Homo sapiens: one gene and its partners. The protein of the gene in region 1 interacts with the protein of each later gene in a pairwise test. Each region holds a gene or a part of one and is shown in the gene's direction. Other genes may lie near its edges.

The links.
Region 2: the proteins of KDM3A (region 1) and BTG3 interact in a two-hybrid assay, tested with the Homo sapiens proteins (one large-scale study listed by BioGRID and IntAct).
Region 3: the proteins of KDM3A (region 1) and RIPK2 interact in a two-hybrid assay, tested with the Homo sapiens proteins (one large-scale study listed by BioGRID and IntAct).

What each region holds. Positions count from the first base shown.
Region 1 is NC_000002.12:86,468,734-86,472,392, forward strand, and holds part of KDM3A (lysine-specific demethylase 3A), read left to right. Parts: intron 1-1,470; coding exon 1,471-1,675; intron 1,676-3,659. UniProt on the Homo sapiens protein: Histone demethylase that specifically demethylates 'Lys-9' of histone H3, thereby playing a central role in histone code.
Region 2 is NC_000021.9:17,595,746-17,599,404, reverse strand, and holds part of BTG3 (protein BTG3), read left to right. Parts: intron 1-580; coding exon 581-788; intron 789-3,659. UniProt on the Homo sapiens protein: Overexpression impairs serum-induced cell cycle progression from the G0/G1 to S phase.
Region 3 is NC_000008.11:89,781,812-89,785,470, forward strand, and holds part of RIPK2 (receptor-interacting serine/threonine-protein kinase 2), read left to right. Parts: intron 1-2,238; coding exon 2,239-2,328; intron 2,329-3,659.

The sequences.
Region 1 (3,659 bases):
CAAAAGCAAACTGGAGTCAAACAGCTGCCTTTTTTTCCGTTCAGATAGATACGTGGCTCCTCGGAAGTGGGCGTTGCATTTTTCTCTTGACTTGGCTTTGAATTCAGAGAATCACTGATGGTAGCACCTGTTGCTCTCCTCAGTAAAGAGCTAGATTTAGACAGTTCAGCTTTCTTGTTTCTAGATATTTCCTCTTGTGAGCCAGGATAGAACAGATAAGATAACCTTCTTGCCTGTGATCTGTGGAAGCCTGGCTCAACTCAAAGGATGTCTTTCAATATCTGAGTAATTAAAATTACATCCTTGAACTACTAATCTCTTTATTTTCTCTCCTTTCTTACTTTACCTTCTCTTTCACTATAACTGAGTAGGAGTGTTTAAGGGATCAAGGACTAACAGCATCATGTAGAAATTTACATGTGGTCTAGTCCTGCTTTAAAAGAGAGGTAAGATTAGATCACCTCTAAGGTAATTATTGAAGATGTTTACTTTATTTAAAACCTTCTTTGGTTTGGGATCTTCCAATTTTCTCCAAGACTCACCTCTCCCACCCATCTCTCAACTAGTTCCCCAGAAGCTGTTGGTTTTTGACTTTCGTTTGTTTGCCTAAAAACCCACTTCCCTCTTCTCAGCTCTCTGGGACCCTAAGAAAAGGTCTTTTCTGTTTTCTATGAAATACTCCTTAAGGCTCTTGACATACAAATGGATTCCTTACTTTGTTATTTTCTCTGACACGGTGATTGCTCTTTCCTGATACATGTCTACCTTGTCTTTAGAAACCATGTTAACATTTCAAATTCTCCGGCCTATTACAAGTTAAAACATAAAATCTGCATTTACTTAGAATGATAATCCTGTCTGTAGCCAGTGCTCTTAATCCTGCTTGGACCACATGTGTGAAAGAAGGGGAGACATGTCAGGAGTCAAGTGACAGGCATTTAGAAGATGCTCTAACTCCATAGACCCAGGGGCTACGTAGGAAAGTGATTCGTTTATTGTTATTTTTAGAATGGTTAGCTTTTGCATTGTACTTTTAAAAACACACCTTAAACCAGTCTTTTTTGAATTTGGAAAGTGACAGAATGGACATCTACTAAGTCAGGCCTCTGCAGAAGTGAGCCTCGAGATCGAGTTTGAATTAAATGTCTGATTTGAAAACATCCTAAAATGTAGAGTTGTGAATAGAAGTATACATTAACTTTGAATTGTGAGTCTGGCTGTTTAATTTGGGGTTTTATGTTGCCAAATGGATTGAGCAAATAAGAATTGTTTTATAAAGAGAGTAAAACTTTCCCAGTTATTCTGATAGTTGTCTTCTGTTGAGCCATTTTTAGAAATTACAATTGAACCAGGAATTGAGAAGGGAGTTCTCTTTAAGGGAATATTGGGTTTTTGAATAGAATTCAGTCATATATGAATGTGATTTTTAAAAATTTGAGGTCCTGTCTCCTTAATCTTTTGTTTTCCTAGCCCCATCCAGGAAGTCGGTTTTGACAGACCCAGCTAAACTCAAAAAGCTGCAACAGAGTGGCGAGGCCTTCGTACAGGATGATTCTTGTGTGAACATCGTGGCACAGTTGCCTAAATGCCGAGAGTGTCGCTTGGACAGTCTCCGCAAGGATAAGGAGCAACAGAAGGACTCACCTGTGTTTTGCCGCTTCTTTCACTTCAGGAGGTGAGGCATTTTGGGAAAAGTTCAGATAATCTGGGCATACTTGTTATGCTAGATCATCTGGCATACTTTTGTTACTCTTTTATCAACAGTAAATCTAGAAGTAAAAAGGTGGTAGATGTTGCATTTATAATCTCTAGGTTGGAGAATCTAGATCTTATTGCATGTTACTTTTCATTCTTATTTTTGATTTTTTTTAAAGTAACAAAGCTTAAAAATATAAACTTCTATTTCAAAAAGTAACAGTCATTATAGAAAAATGTCGAAGGTTCTGAAAAACCACTACAAATAACTACTGTTAACTTTTCAGTGCACTGTATGATCATAAAATGTATACCTAGTTGGTATACCTAGTTGGTATATTGCACACCCTGTTTTGAATCTTACTTTCCCATTACATAGTAGGAACCTCTTGATCATAACCTTTTTCTTTAAATACTTTTGAATTTCTGTGTAAGAGCACATTATAGTAATGTTTGATAATTTATTTCACCAATTCCCTTGTTGGTATTAAGATTATTTTGTATTTTTTGTGACTGGAAGTAATGCAGAAATGATCTTCTTGTCCATGTCCCTGATTATTTGCTTTGGGAGGATTACTAGAAGTGGCATTTCTGGGTCAGAAGGTGTGTGTGTTTTAAGGCTTTGATACACCTGTTCTGCCAAGTTATCCTACAGGAAGGTCGCACCTGTGTCCTTGACAACTGCAGGGTTTGAGCATGCTCCCATGGTCTCTGTACCATTGCCAGCAGGGAGAGGCATACCTTTTTAAAAAATCTTTTCCAATTTTATAGGCAAAATTTTCATATATATATATGTGTGTGTGTGTATGTATATGTGAATATATGTGTGTATATATATGTGTATATATGTGTGTATATATGTATATATGTGTGTATGTGTATATATGTGTATATGTGTATGTGTGTATATATGTATATATGTGTGTGTGTATATGTGTATATATGTATATATATGTGTGTATATATATATATTTTCAAAATCATTTTCTTTAAATTCTTCTATCCTGAGTGAAGAAAAAAGCAGCCCTATCTTTTTTGTTCATATAGAAATGAACAGTGTTGGTATAGTTGAACTTGAGATATAATTCACTTTCTCAGAAATCTAGGTACTTTCAGGTTGGACTAACTCTAATCATAAACAGAAGAGTTGATTTCAATTCCTATTCTCCTCCTCCCTTTTCATTTTATCTAAGTTAAAAGATTGCTGATGAGCTGAATTAAATGCACAGGGAATTTAGATCATTATATCTGTGCTCGTAACTTTCAGATTCAGGCTTATTTAACGAAGTAAGAGTTTTTTAGGTACTAGTTTGCCCCATTCATCCCTTTGTAAATTGCAAAAGCACGTCATAAAGCATGTGGGTAGCATTTAGAGCTGTAATACTGTTAACGTATGTTAACATATGCATATATTAATATATTCTGAATAACGCCTGGCCCAGAATAAGCTGTTAGTAGAGGGTAACTCTGTTTCCCTTCCTCTCGAGAATTTTCTTCTTAAACAGTGTGTTACAATGCATATTCATTTGTATGTGTATGAATTTTGAAGACACTGAAATGGTTATGCTTTGTACAGGTCTTTGTGTTTCTATTCACTTGATTTCATGTTGTTATGGCTCCTCTGCTATGAAAAATATAACTAGATTGGATGAGAGAGTGGTTTAAGTTGCAAAGGCATTTTAGGGAAGGGATAATTTTTTTTTCTTTCTTTTGTTCTTTGTAATATGATTAGAGCTTTTTTTTTTAACCCACTACATTTTTGTAACAGTCTAGAAGTCATTGACTTTATGACTTAGCTGTTTTTTTCATTTTTGACTTCTTTAAAGGGGAAAGTACCTTTGCCTAATGCTGCGTAGTAGAAGCCAGTGTAGTAGAAACCAGAAGAAACTCATATCTTGGTAAAAGAATATCATAATTTAACTTTTTTCCTGATGTTTAGAGTGAAGATTGAGGCTGTCATTAGC
Region 2 (3,659 bases), on another chromosome or scaffold:
AGTTTGGGACCAGCCTCAGCAACATGGTGAAACCCTGTCTCTAAAAATGTATATAAATTAGCTGAGCATGGTGGTACACTCCTGTAGTCCCAGCCTCTTGGGAGGTTTGAAGTTGGAGGATCGATCACCTGAGCCCAGGAGGTAGAGTCTGCAGTGAGTTGTGATTGTGCCACTGCACTCCAGCCTGGGCAACAGAGTGAAACCCATCTCAAAAAAATAAAAATACATCAGAATGTTTTATTGTACAACCAATTTCATTGGTACATACAAAAATGTAATCAAAACAATGGACTTTTTTTGATGTTTTAAACAATTTTTTTTTTAGGAATTAGTAGAAAGAAAATAAGGGAAAGAAAATGGGGTTATGTTTATGAATACTTAAATAGACCAGAAGTAGAAAACTGTGGTTTGCTTGCTGGCATTGAGCTGTATTAGGATATTAAATGTGTAGGGTCAAGTTCTGTGATGATTCAATCTTTGCCTTGTATTGATGGCATGTCCAGATCTCTTTGTTTTTATGGACATTTTTTGCTTTGCTGATGTGACTTCAAGATTTGTAAGTTTTTAATTTTATTCTTAGGTATGGAGAGAAAAACAATGCATTCATTGTTGCCAGCTTTGAAAATAAAGATGAGAACAAGGATGAGATCTCCAGGAAAGTTACCAGGGCCCTTGATAAGGTTACCTCTGATTATCATTCAGGATCCTCTTCTTCAGATGAAGAAACAAGTAAGGAAATGGAAGTGAAACCCAGTTCGGTGACTGCAGCCGCAAGTCCTGTGTACCAGGTAACCATGAAAACAGCTCAGTTTTAAAGGGATGTGCAGGGATTGCCAGGACCTTTCAGGTAGTCCTACTTGGCATTGCCCAAGGTTTCTGACTTGAGATTCTGGATAATAGTTCTTGCCTTTCCCCATGCTAAGGGAAAGCTGTTTCTCTGGCACGTAAATAGGCATCCTGAGTCATTTTATCAAAGGTCAGCTTCACTATACAATAACTAGGATAAATATATTTCAGAAAAATTGGCAAAAAGTAGAAAATTCATGATGGTAAAACATTCCTGATATTTTAAAATCTCATTCAAAAGTTACCACTTATTTTTTGTAGTATGTAACACTTTGTTTTGTACCTTTGGGTTTAACTTTCTATTCTCTCCCGTTCCATGATTAAAGAGAAACCTCTCTAAATTTATTATATTATAATTAATATTTTACTCAAGCTGAAACATTGTCTCCCTTTTTGCTTTACTAGTTGAAAAGTCATATAGCTAGTGTGCCTGCACTTACAGATCCATTCACTGATTTACTATTTATATCTACATACCAAAGAACATTTAATCGACTTTAAAAAATTGTTGACCAAACAGCATTCTTCAACAGGAAAGATATTTTAAAGTCATAACAATTTAAAGAGATTTTTTGAGTTGAGCCTTATTCTGTAAATGTACTTATTACTAATTTTTAAAGGTTATCTATTTTTACTTACTTGCTTTGATTAAATGTGAAACATACCAGGTTTGTGGTAAGGTTGAGCTGAAAATGAAAATTTAGACCTAATGAGTAAGAAGCAGAATATTGGAGCTTTTAGTATGATAAACTAAACTTTTAAATTCAGCATACATTTACATAATGAACATTATTTCAGTGTAACTTAATTTTTGGTTTTCTCATTTTTTTCTCAGTTGAATTATTCTTCCTAGACTTTAGGGGAAGATTATTTCTGAAGATTATCATAATTTAGGATTCTATGTATATGTGTATGTATATGTATATGTATATAACATGTACCTGGCTTTATGAAACTTCAAACAGTACAAGACAGTATAATAGTGAGAAGTCCTCTTTCTCCCCAACCACCAGTCCCTATGCATTTCCACAGAGACATTCATTACCAGGTTTTTTTTTCTTTTTTTTAGTATCCTTCCAGAGACATTCCCTATATAAATAAGTAAACATAGTATTTGTACTTCAGGATCATTTTTAAAAACCTTGCCATAAATATTTGAGGCATTTTTTTTCTCTGTGTGATGGATTATATATTGCAAATTAGGTATATTGAATTTTCTGGAATTCATCCAAATGTGTGGCAATTTTACCTCAGAATTTTATTTGTTGTTAAGCAAGAATGTAAGTCTCAAATTAAATTGATTGCTGCTAATTTTTTACAAGCAAATTAACCTTTAATTTTTAGGATTTCTTTTAAAATTAAATTGCATTTATTTTCCCTCATGTTGAAAGACTATTAGGATAACAGAAAGGTATGGAAATTGAGGTGTCTCTTACGTGCTTTTTAAGGAAAACATTTCTCCTTGGCCTAATACTCATTAGCAAAACATTTTATAATAGAGAAACACTACTTGTGTGAAAGCTAGTGCAAATGGCCCACTTTGATTTTCTTCTTTCTAGTATCTTGAATCTGGCATTGCCACAAGCTTTAAAAAAGTTTTATCAAATAAGGACAACAAAATTTCTAGCTTGGAATTTTTGTTCTCTACTGTTTTCTAAAAGGTATCCCAAGAGAGGGGATAAAGAATTATTCATATCTTAAAAAACGAAGAAATGAAGATTGTGTCAGTTCTCCTGAAATAGATCTGTAGATCCAATTCAGTATCAATGAACATCTTAAAAGGTTTTTTTCTGGAAAGTGACAAATTGATTCAAAATTTTAAAAAAGGAGGATCAGTTGGAGGGCTCACACTAATTCAAAGCTATTATATATTCATCAAGACAGTGTGGTAATGGTTTAAAAACATACAAATATATTGATGGCACAGGATAGAGAGTCCAGAAGTAGACCCACATACATACAGTTAGTCTTTTTTCTCCCTTTTAACAAAAGTGCCAAAGCAATTCAATGGGGAAAGTCTTCAAGAACTTGTGCTGAAACAACTGGATGATCTGTGTAGGAAAAAAAACGAACCTAACTTAGCTGACACCATACACAAAAATATTGATTTGAGATGGATTGTGTACCTAGACATAAAAGATAAATCTCTGACGCTTTTAGAAGAAAACATAGGGAAATATAATCTTTATTTTGTGACAGGCAAATATTTCCTCTAGAGGGTCACAAAAAGTAACTAATAAGGGAAAAAAATTGACAAACTGGACTTCATCAAAATTAATCATCTTTTTGTTCATCAAAGAAACCATTAAGAAAATGGGCAAACCATAGACTAGGACAAAATATTCTCATTACATATATCTGTAAAGGACTTATTTCCAGAATATACTTTTTTTAAAATCGCTCACAAATCACTAGTAAAAGGTAAATGATTCAATGAAAAATAATGGGCATATCCTGCTGTAATCTCAAAAAAAGGGCAGGAGGAGCAAAAGATGTGAATAAACACTTTACAAAAGGAGTTATGTGAATGGCCTCATTTATGATCAGAGGAATGCAGATTAAATCCATATGAAACACTAGTTCTTCCAGAACTGCACAATTTAAAAGCCTGACAGCATGAAATGTTAGCAAGGATGTGAAGCAGCTAGATTCATAAACTTGCTAGTCATGTAAAATAGTACCACTACTTTGGAAAACTGGAACTTTTTAACGTTAAATGTGTAACTCTTCTATTACTCAGCAGTTCCACTCCTAAGTATTAAATATTTACCAAAAGAAACGAAAATATGCCTATAAAGCCTTCTATTAGAATT
Region 3 (3,659 bases), on another chromosome or scaffold:
TTTAATTTATAAGATAGGCACAGTAATATATTAACAATAACCGATAATAAAGTAGAACAATTCTAACAATATTCTGGCATCACTATTCTTGCACTTTGGGCCATTAGTAGTAAGAGTTGACTTAATTAGTAATAAGAGTTATTTGAACAGCCTAGGCAATGTGGCAAAAAAACATAACAAAACAAAACAAAAAATATAGCTGGGTGTGGTGGCACATGCCTGTAGTCGTAGCTACTGAGGGCTGAGATAGGAGGATCACTTGAACCCAGGAGGTAGAGGCTATAGTGAGCTGGCACTCCAGCCAGGGTGACAGAGTGAGACCCTGTCTCAAAAAAAAAAGTTACTTGAGTACAAGCACTGTGATCCTGACAGTTGTTCTGGTACTAACAGGGTGGTAGCTTATACAGCATGGATATGCTGGACAAAGGGATGATTCACATCCTGGGTGGAATGGAGCTGTAGGTTCATCATACTACTTAGAACTGCATGTGACTTAAAACTTATGAATTGTTTATTTCTAGAATTTTACATTTAATATTTTCAAACCACAGTTGAGCAAGGGTAATGGAAACTGCGGAAAGTGAAACCAAGATAAGAGGGGGACTACCGTATAGGGAAGTTAGTCACTTATGTACATCTCACACAGTAAGCTAATGTCAGGGACAACAGTAGAACACGAATTAAATAAGATTCTTCATAAAGAAATTTCTGAGCTAGGTGTGATGGTACATGCCTATAGTCCCAGTTACTCTGAAAGCTGAAGCAGGAGGATCTCTTGAGCCCAGGAGTTCCAGTCCAACCTGGGCAACATACCAAGACCCTGTCTCTTAAGAAAAAAAAAAAAAAAATTCTGAAAGCCAAAATTAGTAGGGAAATTTGTTTTGAGTTTCCTACATTTTTTCAACTCTTGGAATCAGCTCCCGTAATTTATGTTTTCCTAGGTAATTGGCTTCTAAATCTTGAATAATAAACACTGAATAAACATAGTTTTTCTTCAGTTGTTCATTTCTTCTTAGGGACAGATTCACTAATTCACAAGTAATTTGAATTATCATAACTGATCAGTTATGAAAAACTGTTACTAATTCAAGGATATTGCATTATCAGAAATGTTTTGGCAAATTTTATAAGCAGAGGAAAACCTCACATAACAGAGATAAAACCAAAAACTCATTTTAAAGGGTCATATAACAATATGTTTATAGATGTTTATTGAACTGCTGTGTATAACGCCCTGTGCTAGGTACATTATATACACAGATGAATAAGAGTAATTTCCTTCTGAAGTTCCTTAGCCATGTAAATGGAGTATGCAGTCATAAATGTGCATAATGGATGGCTGGGTGTGAATTCACCATTTTCCAAATTCTGAAGAGTAGTTGACATTATGATGGTCTGGGGAAGAAAATGATTGATAGGTTTGTATTTAAATCACTGAGTAGTGATGGAAACTAATCCAAGCCTAGCTTATATAGACAGGAATAAACCACTTAATTTTAACACAAAAGAATAGTATTTAAGTAAATCATCTACTCAGCAGCTACCATTTATTGAATGCTTACAAGTAATGTTTGGGCCTTTTTGCATATATTACTTTTCATTTTCCTCACAGTAATCCTTCAAAATAGGAATTTTTATCTCCAGTGTACAGATAAGTAAACTGAGATTAAATCTAATGTCTCACGTCAAACAGATGTGGGTCTCTAAATCACATCTGATTGGCTCCATGGCCCTGCCATTCCATTATTGACACTCTACCTCCTTTACTTAGTCCAAGCCTCAATCTCTTAACTATAAAATGAAAATAATAATAGTACTTACAGGCACAGTGCCTAAAATGTGGTAAATACTTAACTATAGATAGACATACAATCACACTCCCAAAAATTCCCAAAAATTTATTAAGTACCTAGTTTATACCAGATATTTCATATTTATAAGCTCAATCTCTAGAACCATCCTGCATGTAGGTAATTGTTAGATTTCGAGGATGAAGCTCTGAGACACTGAGAGAAGGTAACCAATTAATATGAGCCAGGATTCAAAGTCTGTGTTTCTAAAGTTATTTCCCGTTCTACACTGTCTTTTCCTTCAGTTATATGTTATATTCTCAACTCTTTATATTTTCTTTCCATGTATTTTGTACAAACATATAAAATGTGTTAGATTGTATTTTACTTCTATAATTTCCTAATCATCTCCAGTTAAAGTGTATATATATTTATGTATTCATTACAGTTACAGAGTGTTTCAAGTGCCATTCACCTATGTGACAAGAAGAAAATGGAATTATCTCTGAACATACCTGTAAATCATGGTCCACAAGAGGTAAAAAAAAAAAAAAAAAAAAAAAGGTTATATTAAACTCAAAATGTGAGAAGAATTTGAAAAAATCATTTGGTCTAAGCCCTTCTTTTATAGAAGGAAAACTAAAGCCCAGGGAGCTTTTAGGATTTGTTTGGTAGCTCATGTCAATCTCCAACTTGAAACCCAGCTGTACTGATTCTCAGTTCATTGTTCATCCCATCAAATCACAATTATTGCTTCTTTGTTTGACATTGAGTTCTGTCCCTGTCATTGTTTTATACAATAAATGATATCCCAGGGTATTATGTAGGCAAATCATTGATTACAGTTTTAACACTGTATTTATGCTACCTTGTTCTTACCTCTTATAATAATTAATGAGAGGAAAACATTGCTGCCTAGGAAGAAAGATCTCTTTAGTAGCATTCAATCAGACTTATATTAGTCTGAATTAGTAATTTCTTTTAAGAATGTATATGTATGTTCATTTTACAGAATTAGAAAAGTAACATAGATTGAGCATCCCTAATCCAAAAATCCAAAGCCCTCCACAGTCCAAAACTTTGAACACCAACATGATGCCACAAGTGGAAAATTCCACACCTGTGTTAGTCTGTTTATCGTTGCTATAATGAAATACCTAAGAGTAGGTAATTTATAAAGAAAAGAGGTTTATTTGGCTCACAATTCTGGTAGCCAGAAAGTCCAGGATTGGGCAGCTGCATCTGATGAGGACCTTAGGCCGCTTGCACTCATGTTGGAAAGTAGAAGGGGAGCGAGCTATGCAGAGAAATCACATGGTGAGACAGGATGCAGGAGAGTGAAAATGAGGAAGTCAGGTTCTTTAACAGCTTGCTCTCTCAGGAATCCACTCACCACTTCTAGAATGGCACCAAGCTATTCATGAGGGATCTTCCCCCATGACCCAAACACCTCCCATTAAGCCCCACCTCCCAACACCACCACATTGGGGATCAAATTTCAATGTGAGATTTAGTGGGGACAAACAAACCATATCAAACCATAGCAACATCTGACCTCATATGATAGGTCGCAGTCAAAACATTGTTTCATGGGTGGACACGATGGCTCAAGTCTGTGATCCCAGAACTTTGGGAGGCCAAGGTGGGTGGATCACTTGAGGTCAGGAGTTCGAGACCAGCCTGGCCAACATGACAAAACCCCATCTCTACTAAACATATAAAAATTAGCTGGGCATGGTGGCGCATGCCTGTAATCCCAGCTACTCGGGGGGTTGAGGCAGGAGAATTGCTTGAACAAGCCAAGATCGCACCACTGCAGTCCACCCTGGGCGACTCCACCTCAAAAAAAAAAACTTTGTTTCAGGTATA